Homo sapiens: one gene and its partners. The protein of the gene in region 4 interacts with the protein of the main gene of each other region in a pairwise test. Each region holds a gene or a part of one and is shown on either strand. Other genes may lie near its edges. The genes, in order: ARPC3, TTC27, HINFP, EFTUD2, IK, CYFIP1 and GSK3B.

The links.
Region 1: the proteins of EFTUD2 (region 4) and ARPC3 interact in a two-hybrid assay, tested with the Homo sapiens proteins (one large-scale study listed by BioGRID).
Region 2: the proteins of EFTUD2 (region 4) and TTC27 interact in a protein complementation assay, tested with the Homo sapiens proteins (one study listed by BioGRID).
Region 3: the proteins of EFTUD2 (region 4) and HINFP interact in a two-hybrid assay, tested with the Homo sapiens proteins (one large-scale study listed by BioGRID).
Region 5: the proteins of EFTUD2 (region 4) and IK interact in binary tests that used the Homo sapiens proteins (3 or more experiments, as listed by UniProt).
Region 6: the proteins of EFTUD2 (region 4) and CYFIP1 interact in a two-hybrid assay, tested with the Homo sapiens proteins (one large-scale study listed by BioGRID and IntAct).
Region 7: the proteins of EFTUD2 (region 4) and GSK3B interact in a two-hybrid assay, tested with the Homo sapiens proteins (one large-scale study listed by BioGRID and IntAct).

The regions. Positions count from the first base shown.
Region 1 is NC_000012.12:110,443,838-110,447,337, forward strand, and holds part of ARPC3 (actin-related protein 2/3 complex subunit 3), read right to left. Parts: intron 1,715-3,500; coding exon 1,615-1,714; intron 1-1,614. UniProt on the Homo sapiens protein: Component of the Arp2/3 complex, a multiprotein complex that mediates actin polymerization upon stimulation by nucleation-promoting factor (NPF).
Region 2 is NC_000002.12:32,666,050-32,669,549, reverse strand, and holds part of TTC27 (tetratricopeptide repeat protein 27), read right to left. Parts: intron 2,916-3,500; coding exon 2,782-2,915; intron 1-2,781.
Region 3 is NC_000011.10:119,124,580-119,128,079, reverse strand, and holds part of HINFP (histone H4 transcription factor), read right to left. Parts: intron 2,801-3,500; exon of another isoform or gene 2,313-2,800; coding exon of another isoform or gene 2,281-2,312; intron 1,146-2,280; coding exon of another isoform or gene 1,136-1,145; coding exon 955-1,135; intron 1-954. UniProt on the Homo sapiens protein: Transcriptional repressor that binds to the consensus sequence 5'-CGGACGTT-3' and to the RB1 promoter. Transcriptional activator that promotes histone H4 gene transcription at the G1/S phase transition in conjunction with NPAT.
Region 4 is NC_000017.11:44,854,446-44,857,945, forward strand, and holds part of EFTUD2 (116 kDa U5 small nuclear ribonucleoprotein component), read right to left. Parts: intron 2,713-3,500; coding exon 2,630-2,712; intron 560-2,629; coding exon 473-559; intron 238-472; coding exon 111-237; intron 1-110. UniProt on the Homo sapiens protein: Required for pre-mRNA splicing as component of the spliceosome, including pre-catalytic, catalytic and post-catalytic spliceosomal complexes. Component of the U5 snRNP and the U4/U6-U5 tri-snRNP complex, a building block of the spliceosome.
Region 5 is NC_000005.10:140,650,829-140,654,328, reverse strand, and holds part of IK (protein Red), read right to left. Parts: intron 2,616-3,500; coding exon 2,523-2,615; intron 2,242-2,522; coding exon 2,182-2,241; intron 1,353-2,181; coding exon 1,185-1,352; intron 392-1,184; coding exon 277-391; intron 1-276. UniProt on the Homo sapiens protein: Involved in pre-mRNA splicing as a component of the spliceosome. Auxiliary spliceosomal protein that regulates selection of alternative splice sites in a small set of target pre-mRNA species. Required for normal mitotic cell cycle progression.
Region 6 is NC_000015.10:22,942,369-22,945,868, forward strand, and holds part of CYFIP1 (cytoplasmic FMR1-interacting protein 1), read right to left. Parts: intron 2,572-3,500; coding exon 2,494-2,571; intron 2,292-2,493; coding exon 2,190-2,291; intron 987-2,189; coding exon 805-986; intron 1-804. UniProt on the Homo sapiens protein: Component of the CYFIP1-EIF4E-FMR1 complex which binds to the mRNA cap and mediates translational repression. In the CYFIP1-EIF4E-FMR1 complex this subunit is an adapter between EIF4E and FMR1.
Region 7 is NC_000003.12:120,000,448-120,003,947, reverse strand, and holds part of GSK3B (glycogen synthase kinase-3 beta), read left to right. Parts: intron 1-1,708; coding exon 1,709-1,902; intron 1,903-3,500. UniProt on the Homo sapiens protein: Constitutively active protein kinase that acts as a negative regulator in the hormonal control of glucose homeostasis, Wnt signaling and regulation of transcription factors and microtubules, by phosphorylating and inactivating glycogen synthase (GYS1 or GYS2), EIF2B, CTNNB1/beta-catenin, APC, AXIN1, DPYSL2/CRMP2, JUN, NFATC1/NFATC, MAPT/TAU and MACF1.

The DNA of each region.
Region 1 (3,500 bases), on a different chromosome or scaffold from region 4:
CCAAAGGATTCTGAAATTAGAAGAATACTTGGCACATAAAAGGCATTCTACAGATATTTGTTGAATATAAATGAATTAGTGTGATTAATGCTGTTATTTAGCTCACAGCACAGGCCTCCATTCCAATTCAGGTTTTTTTTTTTTTTCTTTTGAAACAGAGTTTTGCTCGTTGCCTAGGCTGGAGTGCAATGACATGATCTCGGCACACTGCAACCTCCACCTCCCAGGTTCAAGCAATTCTCCTGCCTCAGTCTCCCAAGTAGTTGGGATTACAGGCATGCGCCACCATGCCCGGCTGATTGTTTGTATTTTTAGTTGAGATGGGGTTTCTCCATGTTGGTTACGCTGGTCTTGAACTCCTGAACTCAGGTGATCCACCCACCTCGACCTCTCAAAGTGCTGGGATTATAGGTGTGAGCCATCACGCCTGGCCTTTGCAGTGAAAAAAAATTTTTTTTTTTTTTTGAGATGAAGTCTCACTCTGTCACCCAGGCTGGAGTGCAGTGGTGCAATCTTGGCTCACTGCAACCTCCACCCTCTGTGTTCAAGCGATTCTCCTGTCTCAGCCTCCTGAGTAGCTGGGATCACAGGTGCCCACCACCATGCCTAGCTAATTTTTGTATTTTTAGTAGAGTTGGGGTTTCGCCATGTTTGCCAGGCTGGTCTCGAACTCCTGACCTTAAGTGATCCACTTGCCTTGGCCTTCCAAAGTGCTGGGATTACAAGTGTGAGCCACCGCACCCAGCCTTGTGATTTTCTTTTATGTTATTTTTCTTCTTTCCCAGGCTGTCTTCTTCCTTGTTCCTTTTCCTCAGAATCAAGTAGAGACTGTGGTGACTCACCATATGCATTAAGTTTACTGAGCTTTCAAATGGTGTTGAAAACAAAATTAAGTTTAAAAAAGGTCAAGTCAAACAGTCTGGCAGAGAAATGGGGACTGGATAAGTACCAAATTGGTAATTATAATAATGGTCTTGGAAACCATGAATGGAATTCAGTTCAGACCCTTGCAGGGTACAGGGAAACCATGTCTAACATAATACAAATTATACTGTTGGGAGAACATCTCAGAAAGCATCAGAAGAGTCTCAGACAGTGTCTGAAAAATATTGCGGCTTTCTGAAATAAAATTCAGAAAAGCGGGAATAGACGTAAGTAATGTTACATAGTACACTTCAGATTTAAGATTGAGGTATTGCTAAAAATGAAGATCTTGAAGAATGAATAAAGGAAGTAGATTTAGACGAGGAAGAGGTTAAAATATTTGTTGTTGTTCTTTTCCAGGTTGATGACAGAAAGGATGGGCATGTGGCATTCTAGACGTAACAGCATTAGATTTGTTTGAAAGAACTGATAAACAGTGTCCAGAATTAAGCACATTTCCTCCATTTTCTCAAAAGAGTTTCCTGGAGAAGTCAGAAGAAATAATACAATTTCCTATTAAATGCAACATATAACCACTATCTTGAAAGGTCTAGACCACAGTATCTACCAAGCAAAGTACAAGGGCAATTTGAGAGAGAAGACTGAGCTAAGAATTTTTCTGATTTGATCATTTCAGAAGATTGTTAGGCATTTCGTACCAAAATTTGAAAATAATGGGTTTAGACTTACTCTCTCTGGGGGCAGGTCCTTTGAATTGACTTCTGATAGGCAACAGTGCCATGTTTCCGATGAGTTTGGTATCAGGATCCATGAGAGAAGAGTGGTAAGCCTGTAATGGCAAGCCCAGGAAGAACACAGAAGCAGAAAAAGAGCAAATGTCACTGTGGCAAACAACCTTCCCTTAAAGGAAAAAAAGAGTAAACCACCCAAGATTAATTAGGGGAGGGAGAAGGGATAGCAGCATTGAGGTGCGAGGGCTGGTTCTTTCTGGCTCAAGAAAACCAATTGTTAAATTTTGAGGCATTTTTCAAGCTGGTTGTTAAACACAGCTCTTCTCAAAAATCAAATTATATAAACTTACAATTAAGTAAATGATGTTGGCTGGACGTGGTGGCTCATGCCTGTAATCCCAGCACTTTGGGAGGCTGAGGCAGGCAGATTGCCTGAGCTCAGGAGTTTGCAACCAGCCTGGGCAACACAGTGAAACCCCATCTCTACTAAAATATAAAAAATTAGCCAGGCGTGGCGGCGTGCGCCTGTAGTCCCAGCCATGTGGGAGGCTAAGCTGGAGAATCACTTGAACCCAGGAGGCGAAGGCTGCAGTGAGCCGAGATCGTGCCACTGCACTCCAGCCTGGGCAACAGAGCAAGACTGTCTCAAAAAAAAAAAAAAAGTAAATAATGTTAAAAACAATGATGCTTAAGTATTCATCACTTCTTTTTTTTTTTTTGAGAAGGAGTCTCACCATGTTGCCTAAGATGATCTCAAACTCCTAAGCTCAAGTGTTCCTCCTGCCTCAGCCTCCCAAAGGGCTGGGACTACAGGTGTGAGCCACCACACCTGGCTACTTCCTAATTTTTTTTTTTTTTTTTGAGACAGAGTTTGGCTCTTGTTGCCCAGGCTGGAGTGCAATGACATGACCTTGGCCCACTGCAACCTCCGCCTCCCGGGTTCAAGTGATTCTCCTGCCTCAGCCTCCTGAGTAGCTGGGATTATAGGGATAAGCCACCACGCCCAGCTAATTTTGTATTTTTGGTAGAGACGATGTTTCTCCATTTTCGCCAGGCTGGTCTCGAACTCCCGACCTCAGGTGATCTGCCCGCCTTGCCCTCCCAAAGTGCTGGGATTACAGATGTGAGCCACTGCACTGCACTTGGCCTACTTCCTAATTTTTTTTTTTTTTTGAGACGGAGTCTTGCCCTGTCGCCCAGGATGGAGTGCGGTGGCGCGATCTCTGCTCACTGCAACCTCCGCCTCCTGGGTTCAAGCGATTCTCCTGCCCCAGCCTCCCAAGTAGCTGGGATTACAGGTGCGTGCCACCACGCCCAGCTAATTTTTGTATTTTTAGTAGAGACAGGGTTTCACCATGTTGGTCAGGCTGGTCTCGAACTCCTGACCCCATGATCCACCCGCCCCGGCCTCCCAAAGTGCTGGGATTACAGGCGTGAGCCACTGCACCCGGCAATAACCTAATTTTTAAAAATTACATTTTACTATTGTCTATGTTCTTAAGGTTATTATTACGAAATACTAAATAATGGGGTGCTGCTGTGCATCTCTTCCAATTCTATGTTCGGTGACATCACATTGGTATCTGGCCAAAGTATTTCCACTACAGAAAGACAAACATCATATAAATCAGGGTACCCAGCCCCCAGCTAAACCAAGACCCAAGCACTATCTTTTCAGCTCTGCCACTTCATGGCGTTATGCTTTTGACCAAGACATCATTCTTCTTCTCTTAGCTTGTTTCCAAATTTGTAAAATGAGAAGATATATATTCCCTTCAGTGGGTAGGTGTGTGTTAAAGGAAGGGATAAAAAAAATCACATTTATGAGAGCATTTTGTATGCTGATTCTTAGTTCTGCTTTTTACAAGATGTCTGGCTTTTTAT
Region 2 (3,500 bases), on a different chromosome or scaffold from region 4:
GTAGTGTTCCTTTCCTTTTCCTGAAAAATGGTTATTAAACAGATGGTGTATATTACAATCTAATAATGTGTTTAACACAAGGTAATATGATATATAACCAACTTAACAATTCTCTTCCACCCATTAGAATAAAGCTATGTTTCTATCTAATCCATACCTACAGCATACAACTTGTACTCTCCATCTTCAAGTAGTAATTAACAAAGACCATAAGATTATCTGAATGTATTTTATTTCACATACAAAAGATTAAATTCTGGCCGGTGCAGTGGCTCATGCCTATAATCCCAACAGTTTTGGGAGGCTGAGGAAAGTGGATGGCTTGAGCCCAGAAGTTCGAGACCAGCCTGGGCAACACGGTGAAACCCCATCTCTACCAAAAATACAAAAATTAGCCAGTCTCATAACCTGGTCTCTAAATAGATAAACAGGTAAAATTTATTTTTTATTTATTGATTTATTTTTTTTTTTGAGATGGAGTCTCACTCTGTCGCCCAGCCTGGAGTGCAGTGGCACGATCTCAGCTCACTGCAAGCTCCGCCTCCCGGGTTCACGCCATTCTCCTGCCACAGACTCCGGAGTAGCTGGGACTACAGGCGCCTGCCACCACTCCCAGCTAATTCTTTGTATTTTTAGTAGAGACGGGGTTTCACTGTGTTAGCCAGGATGGTCTCCATCTCCTGACCTCATGATCCGTCCACCTCGGCCTCCCAAAGTGCTGGGATTACAGGCGTGAGCCACCACGCCCAGCCAAAATTTTTAAAATAAAATAATTCTGAAAAAATTTCTGATAGCCACATGTAATATATTAAAAATGTTAACCACATTAACCCTGTAACATGTATTACATGGTGAATCCCAGCACTTTGGGAGGTTGAGGCAAGAAGATTGCTTGAGCCCAGGAGTTTGAAACAAACCTGGGCAATATAGTGAGAACTCATCTCCATTTAAAAATGGAAGGAAGGAAGGAAGGAAGGAAGGAAGGAAGGGAGGGAGGGAGGGAGGGAGGGAGGAAGGGAAGAAAGAAGAAAAGGAGAAAAGAAAAGAAAGAACAAGCAAAAAAACGATTAAAATTCTGTATTAAATGGTACATCATTTTCATACATTTCTCATAATACTCATCATATCCTATTTATCACCAGGAGATAATTTTCTTTTCTTTTTTTTTTTTTTCAAAGGGAGTTTTGCTCTTGTTGCCCAGGCTGGAGTTCAATGATGCAATTGCACTCATTGCTCATTGTAGCCTCCACCTCCTGGGTTCAAGCAATTCTCCTGCCTCAACCTCCCAAGTAGCTGGGATTACAGGCACACACCACCACAACTGGCTAATTTTGTTTTTTTGTTTATTTTCTTTTTTTTGAGACGGAGTCTTGCTCTGTCACCCAGGCTGGAGTGCAGTGGCATGATCTCGGCTCACTGCAAGCTCCGTCTCCCAGATTCACGCCATTCTCCTGCCTCAGCCTCCTGAGTAGCTGGGACTACAGGCACCCGCCACCACGCCCGGTTAATTTTTTTTTTTTGTATTTTTAATAGAGACGGGGTTTCACCATGTTAGCCAGGATGGTCTCAATCTCCTGACCTCGTGCACCCACCTTGGCCTCCCAAAGTGCTGGGATTACAGGCGTGAGCCACTGCACCTGGCCTAATTTTGTATTTTTAATAGAGACAGGGTTTCACCATTTTGGTCAGACTGGGCTCGAACTCCTGACCTCAAGTGATCCACCCACTTCAGCCTCCCAAAGTGCTGGGATTACAGGCATGAGCCACCATGCCAGGTCAATCACTGGGAGATACTTTTCTATAGAACAACTCCACATTAAAAAACAACAAACACAGCCAGGTGTGGTGGCTCACGCCTGTAATCCCAGCACTTTGGGAGGCCGAGACGGGTGGATCACCTGAGGTTGCGAGTTCGAGACCAGCCTGACCAACATGGAGAAACCCTGTCTCTACCAAAAATACAAAATTAGCCGGGCGTGGTGGTGCATGCCTGTAATCCCAGCTACTCGGGAGGCTGAGGCAGGAGAATCGCTTAAACCCAGGAGGCGGAGGATGCATTGAGCCGAGATTACGCCACTACACTCCAGCCTGGGCAATAGAGTGAGACTCCATCTCAAAAAAAAAAAAAAAAAAAAGTAGTTGGGGGTTTCTGGGATCAGAAAACACATGCATAAATACTAAACGGCTTCATGGAAGCAGCTGGAGTGGACTATAATTAGGTAAACTGACCAAGAGTCATAATTCAAACTAAAGAAGAGAATTCACTAGACATGTCAAATAAACATACTAAGGCAACCACCCCCCCAATAATGACAGAGAAACAAAAGGCCGATCACAAAACTAGTGAAAAGGAATTCTGATAATGTTTATATATTTAGAAAAAGCCTAAGAGATTCCAAGAGAAGACAAACATAAGGAAACAAATATGATAGCAGATAGAGAAACTGGTCTACACCCAGTCTGCCTTTCGTATTTCTTCAAGAGGGGTAATACATAACTAACTGCATCATTAATTCATAGTTATTGAATCCTAGAAGAAAAACAGTATTTATCTCTATATACAGGTTAGGAAAAAAAAAACACCAGTTTTTTCTATCACAGGTTAGGAAAAAAAAACACCAGTTAAACACCAGTTCTCCCTGACTCAGCAACCTTTAAAAGGCAAAAGAAAGAATAAAATGAAGTCTGTCCCCAACCCATTCAGTGTTTCTATGGTACTCAGCTATTGAAATTCTTAGACTCAGGTGTTAATTGAATTTAATAACTTAATGTCCTACTTGCCTTGGTTAAATGTTCCTGAGGAGTGGGTGCTGGAGTGAATTCACAATTTGAAAGGACATCCCCTTCCCTTCTTACATCTAGAATCAGTTGTGCCACATAATTTTCCTGGAACCGTGTTCTTTTTCCCAAAGCACCTGAAAAAACAATAAAATTATATCTACTGACTTACCCATGAGATCTACTGTACAGTCATGAAGAGTAATATTTTCAGAGTGCTTTAGAGTTTACAAGGTATTTTCTCCATTTCACATAAGAAAGTCCTGAGGCCCAGCCTCAGGTTTTAAATGACTTATAAAATTAGAAAGCCAACAAGCTCTGGTACCAGGACTCAAACCCAGGATTTCTGCCACTACAGTCCACATACTAATTTTTGCATCAAACTACCACCCTTTAAAAAAAAAAAAAAAAAGTAACACATTGAGTGTTGTAGGTAGAAGAACTATTATTATCTCTTTTTCACAGATGACAGAAACAAAAGTTCTAAAGAATACAGTCATTTGTTCATGATCACAGGGCTTCTCAGCATCAGAACCAGAGCTTAAAGCCAGGATCTTTTGGTTCTATATCAACAGTTTATTACACTATCTGACTTCATGTAAGACCAAAATTTTTTCATTATGTCTCTGAAATAACTTACTGCAGAATAGCTGTTTTCAAACCACTTTAAGAAAAGCAAAAGTTCCAACATCCACTCTCTGGACAAGGTCAGATTACAAAGA
Region 3 (3,500 bases), on a different chromosome or scaffold from region 4:
GAGATTGAGACCATCCTGGCCAACATGGTGAAACCCCATCTCTACTAAAAGTACAAAAATTAGTTGGGCGTGGTGGCGCGCGCCTGTAGTCCCAGCTACAAGAGGCTGAGGCAGGAGAATTGCTTGAACCTGGGAGGCAAAGGCTGCAGTGAGCCGAGATCGAACCATTGCACTCCAACCTGGCAACAGAGCAAGACTCCGTCTCAAAAAAAAAAAAAAAAATTGGAAGGTGGGAGTGGGGTTGGACTTGGTGGCACAAGCCAATAGTCCCAGCTACTTAGGAGGCTAAGGTAGGAGGATTGCTCGAGGCCAGGAGTTTGAGATCAGTGGGCAACATAAGCAAGATCCTGTCTCTAAAAAAAATTTTTTTAAAAATTGGCGTGTGGTGGTGGTACATGCCTGCAGTCCTAACTACTCGGGAGGTTGAGGCAGGAGGATCCCTTGAGTGTTGAAGGCTGCAGTGAGCTATGATCATGACACTGGACTCCAACCTGGGTGACAAGATGAAGCCCTGTCTCTAAAAAGTAAGATGTATTTCTGACTGGTTGCAGTAAAAGAAAAAAAAAATTGGGAATACTAGAAGAGTAAAAAAAAAAAAAAAAAAAACACAACAACAAAACACAGGTTGCCAACAACTTGTACAGAATGATTAAAAAAAAGCACATTCATCTGTATTTAAATATATGTAAACACAGGCAGAGAGATGTCAAAAACAATGTTCACTAAAGTACTGTCAGCAATTACTTCTTGATGGCAGGATGGCAGATTTATTCCTTATATCCTTGTTGACTGAGTTTTCTATAAATGAGTTTACAATGTTTTTATATACAACAAAAACACAATTAGGAAAATAAACCACCATTCTCTTAGGCCGCCTTCTCCCTCTAAGGAAAAGAAAGTCAGATTTTCCACCTTTCCTTGAGCTCCTCCCCTTCCTGTGTCCTGCTCTCTTACCAAGTGGGTCATCCTCCTCTTCCTCTTCCTCCTCCTCCCCAGAGCCATGCAGGTGCTGCTGCAGGTGCTGAGTGACATGCTCAAAGAACTTTTCCATGGTTGAGCACACAAAGGAGCAGGACCCCCACTCACACTGTAGCCACAGATTCTCCTTTCGGGGAACTTTCCCAGGAGGCGGCATGGCCTTCACCCTAGAGGAAGAGGAAGAAATCCACAGCTGCAAGAATTCCACCCAGGTGCTGCTGAGGGCAAAAAGCTGGGCAGGCAGCCTGCCTAGAATCAGCACGTGTTGTTCCAGTGACCCATGAGAAACCCTGCCCTTTTACAGTAAGGATGGAGTAATTCCTTAAATCCCTGGAAGATGTCTGGTGTTTGTGGAAAGGGAAAACAAAAACTAACACTATTGAGTGTGTGCCAGGCACTGAGCTAAACGCTTTAACAGACATTTTCTCATGAAGCTTCAGAGCAACCCACCAAGAAGGAATTATTCCTCTGTGAGGCAGAACAATGCTCAGGTTCAAACAGATGGCTTTTGAGAAGGATCAGGGTTCAAATCCTGGCTCCACTGTCTACCATCTACTAGCTGTATGACCTTTGTCAAGAACTTAACTTCTGAATACTCTCATCTGCAAAATGAAGATAATAAATCTTTTTGTTTTTAATTTCACACTTACTATATGTCAAGCACCACAGTAAGCATTTTATTTGCATTATGTCATTTAATTACCAACACCACCCTTTGCCGTAGGTGCTTTTTTTTTTTTTTTTTTTGAGATTGAGTTTCGCTCATCTCCCAGGCTGGAGTGCAATGGCTCGATTTTGGCTCACTGCAACCTCCGCCTCCCGGGTTCAAGCGATTCTCCTGCCTCAGCCTCTTGAGTAGCTGGGATTACAGGCGCCCGCCACCACGCCTGGCTAATTTTTATATTTTTCGTAGAGACAGGGTTTCTTCCCCATGTTGGTCAGGCTGGTCTCAAACTCCTGCCCTCAGGTGATCCACCCACCTTGGCTTCCCAAAGTGCTGGGATCATAGGTGTGAGCCACCACGCCCAGCTGGTAGGTGCTATTTTTAACCTCATTTATAGATAAACACCTGAAGTTCCAGAGGTCAACTGACTTGCTCACGGCCACACACTAGTGGTAATGGTAGGGTCATGTTGGGCTGACTCTAGTCCATATACGGTTCTACTCCATAGAGCCTACAGATGAGCCTAGAAGCTCCTTATTTCTTATTGAATCATAAGTCCCCTGCCAGACTTTCACAGTGCCATACAATCTGCCTTTACCTAACCTATCCAACGGTTTACTCCACCACTCTGCTAATACCTTCTGTTAAAATGTAGATTCCATTTGAACATAAAAAGCCGTATCTGTGTAGTTTATACTGCACCTTGGGTGTCTATACACTGCTAGGCATGCTTAGGCATGTAATAAATATTTTTTTTCTTGAGACAGAGTCTCACCCTGTCACCCAGGCTGGAGTACAGTGGCACAATCACAGCTCACTGAAGCTTCGACCTCCCCAGGCTCAGGAGATCCTCCTACCTCAGCCTCCCAAGTAACTGGGACCACAGGCATGCGCCACCACATCTGTCTAATTTTTGTTTTGTTTTGTTTTTGTAGTGACAGGGTTTTGCCATGTTGCCCAGGCTGGTCTCGAATTCTTGGACTCAAGCAACCCATCTGCCTCAGACTCCCAAAGTGTTGGAGTTACAGGCATGAGCCACTGCACCCAGTCTGTAATAAATATTTATTGAAGAAAGATAAACATGAAACTGAAGGTTCTCGGCTGTGCGCACTGGTGCACACCTCTAATCCCAGCACTCTGGGAGGCCAAGACAGGTGGATCATCTGAAGTCAGGAGTTCAAGACCAGCCTGGCCAACATGGTGAAACCCTGTCTCTACTAAAAATACAAAAATTAGCCAGGCGTGGTGGCACAAGCCTGTAATCCCAGCTACTCGGGAGGCTGAGGCAGGAGAATCGCTTGAACTTGGAAGGCAGAAGCTGCAATGAGCCGAGATCGTGCCACTGTACTCCAGCCTGGGCAACAGAGTAAGACTCTGTCTCAAAAAAAAAAAAAAAAAAAAACACACACACACACACAAACAAAAAACTAAAGGTTCTCAATTTTATTTCATTTTATTTTTATTTTTTGAGACAGAGTCTCGCTGTTACCCAGGCTGGAATGCAGTGGCGCAATCTCAGCTCACTGCAACCTCCACCTGCCGGGTTCAAGAGATTCTCCTGCCTCAGCCTCCTGAGTAGCTGGGATTACAGGTGTGTCACCACGCCTGGCTAATTTTTGTATTTTTGCTAGAGACAGAGTTTCACCATGATGGCCAGGCTGGTCTCGAACTCCTGTCCTCAGGTGATCCACCCGCCTCAGCCTCCCAGAGTGCTGGGATTATAGATGTGAGCCACCATGCCCAGGTAGCTCTCAATTTTAGATCTGCACACGAATGTAGTTATCCAGCGCCTGCGTGAGAAGTTCGGATTCAGGAAGGCAGGAGTTAAGCCTAGAAATCTGCCCTTTTAACTCAGCAC
Region 4 (3,500 bases):
ACTGTCCTTCACCAGAGGACACAAGATACTTTTGGGAAAAGAACACTTTGTAGTTTCTTCCACTCCAGAGGTAAGAGACCGCCACCCAGTTCCCATCAGTTCTGCTGTACCTCAGAGGGCAGAGTATCATCCACCAGAATGTTGGGGCCAGTCGCATCAGGGCCAAAAGCCCAGATGGAACGGGCAGCCAGCAGATCCCAATCGTACTTGGTCTGGAAGAACTCTCCCAGCTTCTTCCTGGGGAAGGGAGGAGACAATGGAGCTGTCAGCCAGCTCTGTGATTGCTGGTCCTGGAGCCACAGACCCTCCCTTCCTGGAAGACAGTCACTTCATCCTACCCACTGTGCCCAGAACAAGAGCAAAGGCAAAGACATAAATGCTCCCCAGAAAGATGTGTGCTCTTAGAGACCCGGCAGTTAAACTGTGGCATCCCTGCCTCCTTTCGACCCTGGCGTCAGAGCCCTGTTCTCACCTGTTCCACGTAATCTGGACCACCTCATTCTCTATGTCCTCTGCCAGGCCCTTCTCAAGAGGCTCAGCAATCATGGTGATCTTGTTCCTGGTCAGAATGGAAATGGGTGGTAAGGACGGCTAACAGAACAGCAGAAGAGGCATTACTAAGAAAAGGGTAACAAGACGGACAGCTGAGGAAGTGACATCAGTGAAAGCCACAGGGGCCAAGCGTGGTGGTTCAGACCTGTAATCCCAGCACTTTGAGAGGCCAAGGCAGGAGGATCACTGAAACCCAGGAATTTGAGGCTGCAGTGAGCTATGGCTCACACCACTGCACTCCAGTCTGGGTGATACAGCAACATACTGCCTCTTAAAAACAAACAGCCAGGCGCGGTGGCTCACCCCTGTAATCCCGGCATTTTGGGAGGCCGAGGTGGGCGGATCACAAGGTCAGAAGATCGAGCCTACCCTGGCCAACATGGTGAAACCCCATCTCTACTAAAATACAAAAAATTAGCTGGGCGTGGTGGCGTGCGCTGGCACATGCCTGTAATCACAACTACTCAGGTTGAGGCAGGGGAATCACTTGAACCCAGAAGGCGGAGGTTGCAGTGAGCCGAGATTGTGCCACTGCACTCCAGCCTGGCGACCGTGCAAGACTCTGTCTCAAAAACAAAACAGAACAAAAAAAAACCCCAGACAAACAAACAAACAAACAAACAGAACCTGGGCAACAAAGCAAGAGACCCCATCTCTATAAAAAATTAGCCAGCCGGGTGCGATGGCTCATGCCTGTAATCCCAACACTTTGGGAGGCTGAGGCAGGCAGATCATGAGATCAGGAGTTCGAGACCAGCCTGGCCAACACAGTGAAACCCCATCTCTACTAAAAATACAAAAATTAGCTGGGTGTGGTGACACTCACTCCCTGTAGTCCTAGCTACTCGGGAGGCTGAGGCAGGGGAATTGCTTGGACCCGGGAGGCAGAGGTTCCAGTGAGCTGAGATCGAGCCACTGCACTCCAGCCTGGGCTACAGAGTGAGACTCTATGTCTCAAAAGAAAAAAAAAAAAAGAAAAACAAACCCAGGTGTGGTTAGCACACCTGTAGTCCCAGCTACTTGGGAGGCTAACTAAGGTAGGAGGATCGCTTGAGCTCGGAAGGTTGAGGCTGCAGTGACCCATGGTGGCACCACTGTACTCCAGCCTGGGTGACGAAGTGAGACCCTGTCTCAAAAAAAAAAAAAAAAAAAAAAAAGCCACAGTATCAGGGGCAAGGTGGAGCAAAAAGGGCAAAGGGCTCATCTTTCTTTCATTTCAATCTACTGGTCTTTATGAAAGTAAGGTTTAAGCTGGGCGTGGTGGCTCATGCCTGTAATCCCAGCATTTTGGGAGGCCGAGGCGGGCGGACTGCCTGAGGTCAGGGGTTCGAGACCAGCCTGGGCAACATGGCGAAACCCCACCTCTACTAAAAATACAAAAAATTAGCCAGGTGTGGTGGTGCGTGCATGTAATCCCTGCTACTGGGGAAGCTGAGGCACAAGAATTGCTTGAACCTGGGAGGCAGGGGCTACAGTGAGGCGAGATCGTGCCACTGTACTCCAGCCTGGGCGACAGAGCGAGACTGTCTTAAAAAAAAGAAAAAAAAAGTAAGGTTTAAGCTGGGCATGGTGGCTCACACCTGTAATCCCAACAATTTGGGAGGCCAAGATGGGAGGAACACTTGAGCCCAAAAGTCCAAGACCAGTCTGGACAACAAAAAATAAAAAAATTAACAGATGGCCTGGTGTGTGCCCATAGTCCTAGCTGCTTGGGAGGATTGCTTAAGCCCAGAAAGTTGAGGCTGCACTCCAGCCTGTGTCAAAAAAAAAAAAAACAAAAAAACAAAAAGTGAGTAAGATTTGGAGTAAACTTTTAAGATAGTCATTTTATAGAGACAAAGTGGCAGTTATGAAACTCCTCTTGGGAATACCCAAGGCGAATAATCCCATGTCATTGTGTTCAAAGGCAGAAGGGCTGAGAGGGCTGGAGTGAAACTCAAGTATTGTAAGCACCCCCTATTCTGAGCTGTAGAGGTCTCTATGTGCATAGTGCTCATGGTGGGGGTAGAGGTGGAAGATAAAGGAGAGAGAGTGTCCAGGAGGCTGCAGTCCCAGGGACACTGTGCTCCCAGCTTACTTCTTATTAGGCGTTTCAGCAAAGCACTTGAGGGAGGATGTTTCCACCACCGTCTCACAAAACGTGACAACTGGGTCAGCCACCTGGGAAACAGAAAATAAATTACTGAAGCGAGGTCTAATTTTGTTGGAAGGGCAACCATTTACCTAAGGGAATTCAGAAGCTCCCTTGACACTACCTCTGTGAAAACCCCAACTGCCTTAATCAGCACAAGTGATAAGTACAACAGCAGGTTAAAAGAGCTGTCCAAATCATCACCAAAAAGCCCAAGAAAACTTACTGTAGTAAAGAAATTAGATTCCTGAGCCAAGAGTAAGTGGGGTATCAAACTAGGGCCTTAATTCTAGTCTTCAAAGGTAGCTCTCAGCATCCATTCAGCCATCTACCACCATTCACTGAACAACCCCCATGGGTCTGACAGAGCTGGTGCTGAGACCCACTGGCGTGCACCCATGTCATTCTCAACCCACAGCATCTGAGTGAAGCTCTGCCCTGAAGCCCCAACATGGTCTGCTGCCCAGGAAACCCAGTGTTTTCTATGACACCAATCCTTCCTCCTTCCTAGATACATCAGTAGAGGAGTCTAAGAGGGGTATTGAGGGTCCTCCACAGGGCCTTGGAGAAAATACGACTCAACTAGGACAAGGAGGCCAAGCAACACATGGTTTGAGGGGCTACATCAAGGCTTGACAAAGAATCTGGGAGAGACAGTCCCCACCCTCTCCTTGAAACCACCCACTCTGAGACCTAATCACCACCCATGGGTTAATTGTTTAATTGTGCAATTATTTCCCTAACAAAGGACCAAGAATAACTTTGGCTTGGGAGCCTTTATTTTCTTTTTCCTTTTTTTTTTTTTTTTTTTGAGACA
Region 5 (3,500 bases), on a different chromosome or scaffold from region 4:
GGTAAATGAAACAGAAGGGCTATGCAAAGGTACAGGAAGCAGGAGGTGAAGGGAAGTGCTTAACCACACCTGGGTGATCAGGGAAGGTTTCTCCAAGGAAATAAAATTTGGCCTGATACTTGAAGGATGAGTAGCAATCAGCTTTTCAGAGGGGCCATCTTTAGCCCTTCTTCTACTCAGTCTGAACTCTCAGGAATCTCCCTCCTCATCTTGCCAGACCCATACAAGAGCATTCAGCACGACAGTATTACTCCCCACCTGACCACCAGGACTCACCTTTTGAAGCAGAGCAAAATCCAAGCCTTTCACCAAATGGGTGTGTTCCATGTCACCACCCAAGAATTTGGACTCCTGGATCAACTGTCTTCTCTTCTCTGCAGCTGATTTGTCCCTGTATAATGAAAGAGGCCACATAAGAACAGTACTGTCCAGGCGTGGTGGATCACGCCTGTAATCCCAGTACTCTGGGAGGTCAAGGCGGACAGATCACAAGGTCAGGAGTTTGAGACCAGCCTGGTGGATATGGTGAAACCCCATCTCTACTAAAAATACAAAAATTAGCTGGGCATGGTGGTGGGCGCCTGTAGTCCCAGCTACTCGGGAGGCTGAGGCAAGAGAATCGCCTGAACATGGGAGGCGGAGGCTGCAGTGAGCTGAGATCGCGCTACTGCACTCCAGCCTGGGCAACAAGAGCAAGACTCTGTCTCCAAAAAAAAAAAAAGGGGGTGGGGGAAAGGGGGTTGGGGGGCCAGGTGCGGTGGCTCACGCCTGTAATCCCAGCACTTCAGCAGGCCGAGGCGGGTGGATCATGAGGTCAGATCGAGACCAGCCTGGCTAACACGGTGAAACCCTGTCTCTACTAAAAATACAAAAAATTAGCCGGGCGTGGTGGCGGGCGCCTGTAGTCCCAGCTACTCGGGAGGCTGAGGCAGGAGAATGGCATGAACCTGGGAGGCGGAGCTTGCCATGAGCCAAGATCGTGCCACTGCAGTCCAGCCTGGGTGACAGAGCGAGACTCCATCTCAAAAAAAAAAAAAAAAAAGAACAGCCCTTTGTGGGTGGCAAATGCCTCTGAAATCGCTTATTGTAGGCTCCAGGGCAGGAAAGTAAGAGGAAGAGTTCACATTGTATTTGCATGACTCTCGGATGCTGAGGGAACCATGCCCTGTTCCCTCAGTACTCACGCCTCAGCAGTGGGGCCAACAGCCCTATAGTTAGCTGTGGTGCTGATAAGCTCGGTTTCTTCATAATCTTTGTTCACTCCATCTCTCCGTTCCTTGGCACGATCCCGGTACTTCTCTGCTAGCTCTCTCTCTCTCTCAATTTCTTGTTGGCGTAGCTTGGCATAATAACTGTGACCAGAGAAAGGCAAATGTATAAGGCTCATCAGCTGCTACCTCAAGGTCAACAGAACTGTTCCTGCTTGCTTCCCTACATCTCCAACCTACTCTCTATGGGGAAAAGCTCATGTCTGTCCTGATAGAACTGCTGGCCACCTCTTCGTAGTTACTCAAAATCAGAACTACAACTTCTTCCAGCTTATAGATATACTTTTCCAGTGCCAACTTGGGACACTCCATCTGTCACTTCAGAACTTTTTAATACCACCCAACTCTACCAATTCTCTATAGATATAAGACTTTTCCACACAAAAATCAGAAAATCTTCTGAATTTTTACCACCTTCTAAATTTCAGCTGAAAAGAACGTATTATTTGCTGGTCCACTCTCAGAATAAAGGAAAAGCCAAGTACCAGGTCCTGAAACTTTCGTATCATATAAATAACGATGATGATATAATAATGATGATGGCCGTCAAGATTTATTGGGTGGTTACCATATGCCAGGCATTGGTGCTAAATGCCTACATGTACTTTCACAGCTGATCCTCATGACATCCTGATAAAAGTTATTATTGCTACTGTATCTCCATTCTATCTGTGGATTAGAGAGGCTAAGCAAATGTCTAGGTTATCCACCAAGAAACTAGCGAAGATGAGATTAAAATATAGATAGGCCTATTCCAAAGCCCTCTACTGCCACTCTAAGTATCACTCTGTTTCATTAAGAAAGTAGAGAGCCTCAAGACAAAATCTTAGTTTCTAGCTTCATAATTAGCCCCTACTTCTTTCCCCTAAACACTATCCACCTTAAAATCTAAAACCCTTCACCCTTCCTTCACCTTTTCTTTTTCCTCCTTCGTGCAGCTGGGTCTTCATCCTCATTGTACTCCCTTGGCATCCTAGAAGAGACGAGAAATTCACTGATAGCAAAATATTGCCACAGCCCCAGAAACCCCAAGAAGTCTCCTTGAGGATTTTTAGAAAGACCTAGAATACTGATCAAAGTAACACTTTCAATCAAGCAGAAATCCACACCAATATTTGTAGGTGGGCAGTTCTCAAACTTTAGAGAGTATCATAAATACCTGAGGGACTATTAAAAGTCATTCTACTTAGTAGAAAGAAATAGGAAGGAGCAAGAAACAAGTTGGGAGACAGGTTGGATCACCCAAAGACTTACTCATGGTGACGTGACTTAGAAGGTGGTGCAGAGGTAGGTGCAGCCCTGGGGGTCATGAGAAGTTTCCTGAAGTCTTCATTGGTGAGTTTTGATCTAGAAGAAAAGGCAAAGATTTTAAATATTAGGACTCAATAAGAAATGAAAAAGGAACAAGTAAAAATCATGATTAAATTAACAGAAATCAGGGAAATACAAATTAAAACAAAGATATGACACTGTTTTTTTTTTTTTGAGACGGAGTCTCACTGTCACCCATATTGGCCAGGCTGGTCTTGAACTCCTGACCTTGTGATCCACCCACCTCGGCCTCCCAAAGTGCTGGGATTATAGGGATGAGCCACCGCACCCAGCTTTTTTTTTTTTTTTTTAAGACAGAGTCTCCCTCTGTTGCCCCGGCTGGAGTGCAGTGGCATGATCTCAGCCCACTGCAACCTCTGCCTCCTGGGTTCAAGTAATTCTCCTGCCTCAGCCTCACAAGTAGCTGGGAATACAGGTGCCCGCCAACACACCCAGCTAATTTTTGTATTTTTATTAGAGGTGTTGGCCAGGCTGGTCCCAAACTTCTGACCTCAGGTGATCTGCCCACCTCAGCCTCCCAAAGTGCTGGGATTATAGGTGTAAGCCACCACGCCCGACCAGATATGCCATGCCACTTTTAATGCATCAGAGTGTTAACTACCAGAAAGTTTGATAAATCAAGTGTGAGTGAGAATTTGGGAAGGGGACTCTCTCATATAATGCTGATGAGAATGTAAACCAGTATAACCAATTTGAAGGGCAATTTTGCAGTATTTGTTAAAATTTAAGTATATATATCCTATGAGCCAGCAACTCCATTTATTTATATTTAGCCTGGTCCATTACTGACATATGTATATAAGAAGGCCTGTAAATTTAATTCAGTTATAGCCTTGAAAATAATCAGTCTGGCCGGGTGCAGTGGCTCACACCTATAATCGCCGCACTTTGGGAGGCTGA
Region 6 (3,500 bases), on a different chromosome or scaffold from region 4:
AGCAAAACATGTCTTCAAAAGCACTGAGCACAGATGAAGCAGAGCAAGAGCATCAGGAGACAGCGTGCCAAGTGTCACCAAACGCCGGTCGGCAGCGTGCCAAGTGTCACCGAACGCCGGTCGGCAGCGCGCCGAGTGTCACCAAATGCCCATCGGCCACCCACTGCCCCACACTGCTCCAGAAGCACACACTGGGCCATGCCTGCCTCTTCCGCTCGTCTTGCCAGCCTCTCCAGAGGCTAGCTTCTCCAGAAGCTCTCTACATCCAGAAAGAAAACCACCAGGGAGAGGATCTGGAAGCGCAGTGTGACCACGAGACACCCTGTGACTGTGCACGGGCCACGTCTGCACATTGCTGGGATGGTGCTCATGTGCTGGGGACCCCCGCTGGCGAGTGACCGGCACCGAGGACTGCAGCCCCAACGCCCAAGGTAGGCTGCAGAGGCCACCTGCCCCCTTGCCAAGATGCTCCCTGAGCCAGATGCCTGTGCTCTGTGAGCTAGGCCTACATCTTGTGCATGTCTGTCTTCCCAGGGGCTCGAAGGTCCTCTGTGACATCTGAGGACAGCCAGGGCACGAAGAGCCTGCTCTAGCTGTGCAAAGCCACGATATGCACTTATCTGCTGGCTCCCCTCACCTTATCCCTCGAAGCAGGTGCTCACACAGCCCTGACACTGAGACGTAGCTGCTGCCTACCAGAAGTGACGACTTCAGCAAACAAAGACGCACACCTGCTGTGCACAAGGCAGGCCACTGAGCTGGGTGCTCTCGGGAGGGCCCGCAGTGCGCGAGGTGGGTGCTCACCTCTTGTACGCTGAGTGGTCGTTCTTCACACTGCACTTCATGTTCTTCAGCTCGTCCAGCACAGCGAACATGTTGATGAATTTGCCCAGTGTGATCAGGTAGGCTTCTGACACGAAGTCCTTCCTCCTCTCGGCATGGCACAGGCGCCTCACTTCCCCGCAGAAACGCTCAATGGCATTTCTCTGTGCAGAGGAAGCAGGAGGGCAGAAAGCTGCAGGTCAGTGAGGAGCCAAGCCCATGTCCCTCCTTCAAGCACCTGCAGTCACTGCTCCTCGATGAGAAACGATCTGCCCAGTGAGGCTCCAGGCCGAAGTGTTTACAATGTGGGCAACCAGACCCCTTCCTGAAAGCAGCTCCCACTGCCTGCTCTGCACCATCATTACTTGACTTGCACTTTACCAACTACATCACTAAAGTAACAAAATCTTGCTGATTATTCCAGCAAAATTACTGAGCAAAATGCTCCAATAAAACGCCTGTAAAATTCAGATGTTCTAACTTTCAGAAGTGAAAACTGGGAGAGATTTTTTTCCTCTTGGTAACTTTCAAGGTAAAACAAAAATTCATCTCCCAGTTAGTTCCATCTCCTCCCTTTGCTGAAGGACATCATCATAAAAAATCTGGATGTTTCCAAAATACTTCTTTAAAAAGCAGCAAGCCCCTTCCATGTGGCTACTTCTTGCCTAACCAAGGCCAGGGCGAGGACCACCAGGAATGGACAGTCAGGGTGAGGCTAACAGCAAGAAAATACCTGAAAGAGCAGACGAAAACAAAAGTACAAATTGGCCAGGCGTGGTGGCTCACACCTGTAATCTCAGCATTTTGGGAGGCCAAGATGGGCAGATCATCTGAGGTCAGGAGTTCAAAACCAGCTTGGCCAACATGGTGAAACCCTGTCTCCACTAAAAATACAAAAATTAGCTGGGCGTGGTGGCGGGCACCTGTAATCCCAGCTACTCAGGAAGCTGAGGCAGGAGAATCGCTTGAACCTGGGAGGCAGAGGTTGCAGTGAGCCGAGATCATGCCATTGCACTCTAGCCAGGGCGACAAAGCAAGACTCTGTCTCAAAAAAAAAAAAAAAAAAAAAAAGTACAAACTGGCAAAAAGTCAAAGCATTGTACTTGAAACTGACAGAAAGCAGGCTCCATGAAGGAAACATAAAATCACTCTCAGAGAAGAGAAGTGAACCACAAAAGGAGCGTTGATTCCGAAAGGGCATGAGGAACTTTAGACTGTCAAAGGCTTGGTCCCTTTTGTCTCAGAAACTGGTTGCTTTAATTTGCAGGCACTCTGTTCAGGGTGTTCACAGTGACAGTGATGGGTAGGAAGGGGTCAGCAACCCACCCCTCGGTGTTACACCCCCCCCAGATTATTTGCCATTTTACCTGGAAGTACATGAAATTCATCAGTTTTGTGACCTCAGGCTCCAGAACCTCCACGGTTTTCTCGTAGATTTCCACTCTGTTAGGCTGCTCGTTACATTTCACCTGGGAATAAAGGAACAAGGATGACATAAGAGGCTTTGATCCAGCCAGAAGCAGCCGCTGGGCTTCTAGAGCTAGTGATCCCGCCCTGCTGTGGGGTGAGAACTGGGAGGAGAGTGGGCCAGGCATGGCAGGGGCAGGGGTGTGGTGTGGCAGGGGCCTGGCAGGGTGTGGCTGGAGGGGAAGAGCCAGGCGAGCGTGGCACCTGTGGGATGGCCCGGGAGCAGCTCCTCCAGGTGTACAGCATGACAGCATATTCTTGGCCCTCCTCCAGCATCTCGTTCTGCAATGGAACACAGGGCAAATCAAAGGCAGGCGGGGGAACTAGCATGAAAAGCAGATGCCAGTTGCTAAAATCCAGACAAAGCGCCACAAACTATCCTAAGCACTGTGGCCTGTGTGCCAAGAGACGGCTGCCAGAAGCTAGTGACACTGAGGTGCGGCGCTGGGGGCCACAATGACCACCCAAAACACCCCATGGCTTCTGCAGGCGAGAGGGGTGTCAGTGACACGCAGGCATCTCTGAGGGGTGCCACAGGCGTTACACCTTGGCTCCACCCAGCCCTCAACAACCTGCTGGCCATGAGACCTGCAGTTAGGAACACAGAGGAAGGGCTCAGGGCAGACGCCCTGCCCGGTGTGAGCACACACAGGATCCCCATGGCCTCCTCACTGGCTCACAGGGCCTCCCGGTCCCAGAGAGGACTAGAGGCAGGGCTGCCAGCCCCGGGTGTGCAGGAGGAAAAGTTAGGAGCACGCCCACAGCACTTAAAATCTAGGTAGAGAGTCCATGGGAAGAGGACTGTCATCACTGCTGTAAAACTGCTTTTGCTTTCCACTCTTTAACATCGTTTCCTTTGGAAAAAATCAAATAGATGCTCTTAAATCTAGCCTTTATTTAGTGAGACGTTCATCACAGTATTTTTTTTTTTTTTTGAGACGAGTCTTGCTCTGTCCCCCAGGCTGGAGTGCAGTGGCACGATCTCAGCTCACTGCAACCTCTGCCTCCCGGGTTCAAGCAATTCTCTTGCCTCAGCCTCCTGAGTAGCTGGGATTACAGGTGTGCGCACCACCATGCCTGGTTAATTTTTGTATTTTTTTTTTTTTGTAGAGACAGGGTTTCACCATGTTGGCCAGGCTGGTCTCGAACTCCTGACCCTAGGTGATCCGCCCACTTTGGCCTCCCAAAATGCTGGGATTACAGGCGTGGGC
Region 7 (3,500 bases), on a different chromosome or scaffold from region 4:
GCAATGCCCCACCCTGCTTCGGCTCGCCCTCCATGGGCTGCACCTGCTGTCCAACCAGTCCCAGTGAGATGAACCAGGTACCTAAGTTGGAAATGCAGAAATCACCTGTGTTCTGCAAAGATCTTCCTGGGAGTTGTAGACCAGAACTGTTCCTATTCAGCCATCTTGGAAGCGACCATGAATGCCATCTTACAAATGAAAGTGTTAATTGGTCACAGACATTCACTGGCTTTTGTGTATATTAATACTTCTGTGAATTTAAATGGATATAAATATTGGTTATAATATTCCACTAGTGCATTTGGATATTCATTTATCTAGCAATTTATATTTCACAGAGAAAAATACTCATAAATATTATATTACTTTTCTTTTATTAGGTTAATTGGAATTCAGTTAGTATTTTAGAAAGGAAATTGTAATGGAAGAATAACAGGAAAAAATAAAAGTCCAATAAGTGAGCCTAAGGACTTATATTGTACTGAGAATTGGTTTTAGATTTGTCAGGGAAGAGAGAAGAAACAGTAGACATTTTTGTGTACGTTGAAGTCACTAAAAGAACAATGTAAAGCTCTTTTAGATCAGATACTAGGTAGCATAATACACAGAATCGATTAAGAATTCAGAAAACAAGATGGTGACTGTGGACTATCCCTAGTGAAGTAGGAGGTGGCTCTTGTGCCTGAATTGAAGAGAGCCGTTGGATTGCTACTGGGGTGAGAGAAGGCAAAAAAGGAAAGAAGAGGTCTGTGAGTGAATAGAGACCCTGGAGCCAGTGATATGCTTATATAATTGGGCCTCAGTTCAGAATGGGTTGGATTATTTAAATTTTTATATCTGTTAACCCCAAATTAACATTCTTTTCTCCACCTGAGCTTTCTCTGAGAGGTCTTCTACTTTGCTAAAAAGAAGATTCAGGGAAGCAAACACTCAAAGCCTTACTTTCCTAAATGCAGAAGGATCTGAAGAGAGAAGTTTTAAACATTTTTATTTGCACATATTTTATTTTCAAGTAAAATAAGGTCTTGAAGAAAGCCCTAAGGCCTTTTAGAATTGGATGGATAAGGTCAGACTCTTATGGGTTCACCTTTTGCTATTTGACCATGGGCAAATTTAACATTCTTCCTATTACCTATAATATGGGAACAGTACTGTCTACCTCATGGGGTTGAAACTAAGCATTGTGTCTGGTCTATAGAATGACTGAATACATGGGAGTTTAAAAAATGACTTATAATTGAAACAAGTAATTGAAGTAATTACATGTAATAAACTAAAAATAATTTGTAGTAAAGAATATAGTTTACTTTGACCAGGCGTGGTGGCTGATGCCTGTAATCCCAGCACTTTGGAGGCCAAGGAGGGCGGATCACCTGAGGTCAGGAGTTCAAGACCAGCCTGGCCAACATGGTGAAACCGCGTCTCTGCTAGAAATACAAAAATTAGCCAGACGTGGTGGCAGGTGCCTGTAATCCTAGCTACTCGGGAGGCTGAGGCAGGAGAATTGATTGAACCCGGCAGACGGAGGTTGCAGTGAGCCGAGATTGTGTGACTGCACAACAGCCTGGGTGACAAGAGTGAGACTCCATCTCAAAAAAAAAAATAAAATAAAAAATAAAGAATATAGTTTACCTTGTATATTTTGGCAGTTTTCTCTATTTAATTCCTTACAGTTCTCGTGAAAAAAAAATTTCCTTTCTTCCTTTAGGAGACAAGGACGGCAGCAAGGTGACAACAGTGGTGGCAACTCCTGGGCAGGGTCCAGACAGGCCACAAGAAGTCAGCTATACAGACACTAAAGTGATTGGAAATGGATCATTTGGTGTGGTATATCAAGCCAAACTTTGTGATTCAGGAGAACTGGTCGCCATCAAGAAAGTATTGCAGGACAAGAGATTTAAGGTAAAATGTCCAGTATTTCATATATTTTGTTGCTGTCGTAATACATATACCATAAATGATTATTTTTTTAGTTGCTTCTTTTTGCTTCAAATTTCTTCTATTGTGCGCATTTTTGTTCAGCTCAACCATTGTAGTGATTTTATTTCTAGTCATGTATTTTGTAGAGATAACATTCACTGAAGATTGCAGTATTACTTTTGTAGTCATTACAAATGACATATGTAATATATGTATTTTTTAATCCTGTGAAAGGTAAGTTAAAATTTCTTAATTTATACTATAAAAAGTGACCTGTCCTCACCGTTGTACTGTGTTGATGTAGACCAGAGGAACACTGCCTGTAGCATATAAGCATTTTATGTATTTGACTATGCTTCCTTTTTTCAAAAAATTTTTTTAATCCATGTTGCAACTTGTGTTAGTCTGTTTTTGCATCTCTATAAAGGAATACCTGATATTGAGTAATTTATAAAGAAAAGAGGTTTAATTGGCTCACAATTCTGCAAACTGTACAGGAAGTGTGGTGCAGACATCTGCTTCTAGTAATTGTCTCAGGAAACTTCTAATCATGGGCAGAAGGTGAAGGGCGAGTAGGTGCATCACATGGCAAGAGCTGAGCGAGAGCATGAAGGGGGAGATCCAGACTTTATTATTATTATTATTGTTATTACTATTTTGTAGAAACGGGGTTTTGCCATGTTGTCCAAGCTAGTCTCAATCTCCTGAGCTCAGGCAAGTCGCCTGTCTCAGCCTCCCAAAGTGCTGGGATTACAGGCGTGAGCCACCATGCCCGTCCCCAGACTCTCTTAAATAACCAGATCTCCTGTGAACTAACTGAGTGGGAACTCACTCATCAACAAGGGGATGGTGCTAACCCCATTCATGAGTGGTTGACCCCCTTGATCCAATACCTCCCACCAGGCTCTACCCCGTCTCTACTAAAAATACAAAAAATTAGCCGGGTATGGTGGCGGGCGCTTGTAGTCCCAGCTACTTGGGAGGCTGAAGTAGGAGAATGGCGTGAACCCGGGAGGCAGAGCTTGTAGTGAGCCGAGATCGCGCCACTGCACTCCAGCTTGGGGGACAGAGTGAGACTCTGTCTCAAAAAAAAAAAAAAAAAAAAAAAAGGAGATTACATTTCAACATGAGGTTTGGAAAGGGATAAACATCCAAACCATATTACAACACTATCCATTTTTCTCGTAACTTTTTTTTTTTTTTTTTGCTATCTTCCCTTTTTTTTCTTGTCCTTCTGCCTTTAGACACTAGCAATCCCAAAATTCAGTTCTCGTCATGTATTTTCATTTTCTGTACCTCATTAGGGGAGCCTATGCATGGAAGCTCAGATGTCATCTCTATGTTGTGGTATAGCAGAGAGAGTCAGAAGACACCGGGTGTAATTAAGCCTCTGTCACTATGCAGCGTTGCTCCCTTTACTACTCTTCCAACCTCTGCAACATTTTAGTGGGAGCCTCCAATGTACCAAGATCTATGGTAAACATGAAGGGATATAACAAGAAGAAGTGATCACTGTTCTGGTATAACACTAGTTATACCACATTCTAGTGTCCATCTGCTGTAAATATCTGGAACATTCT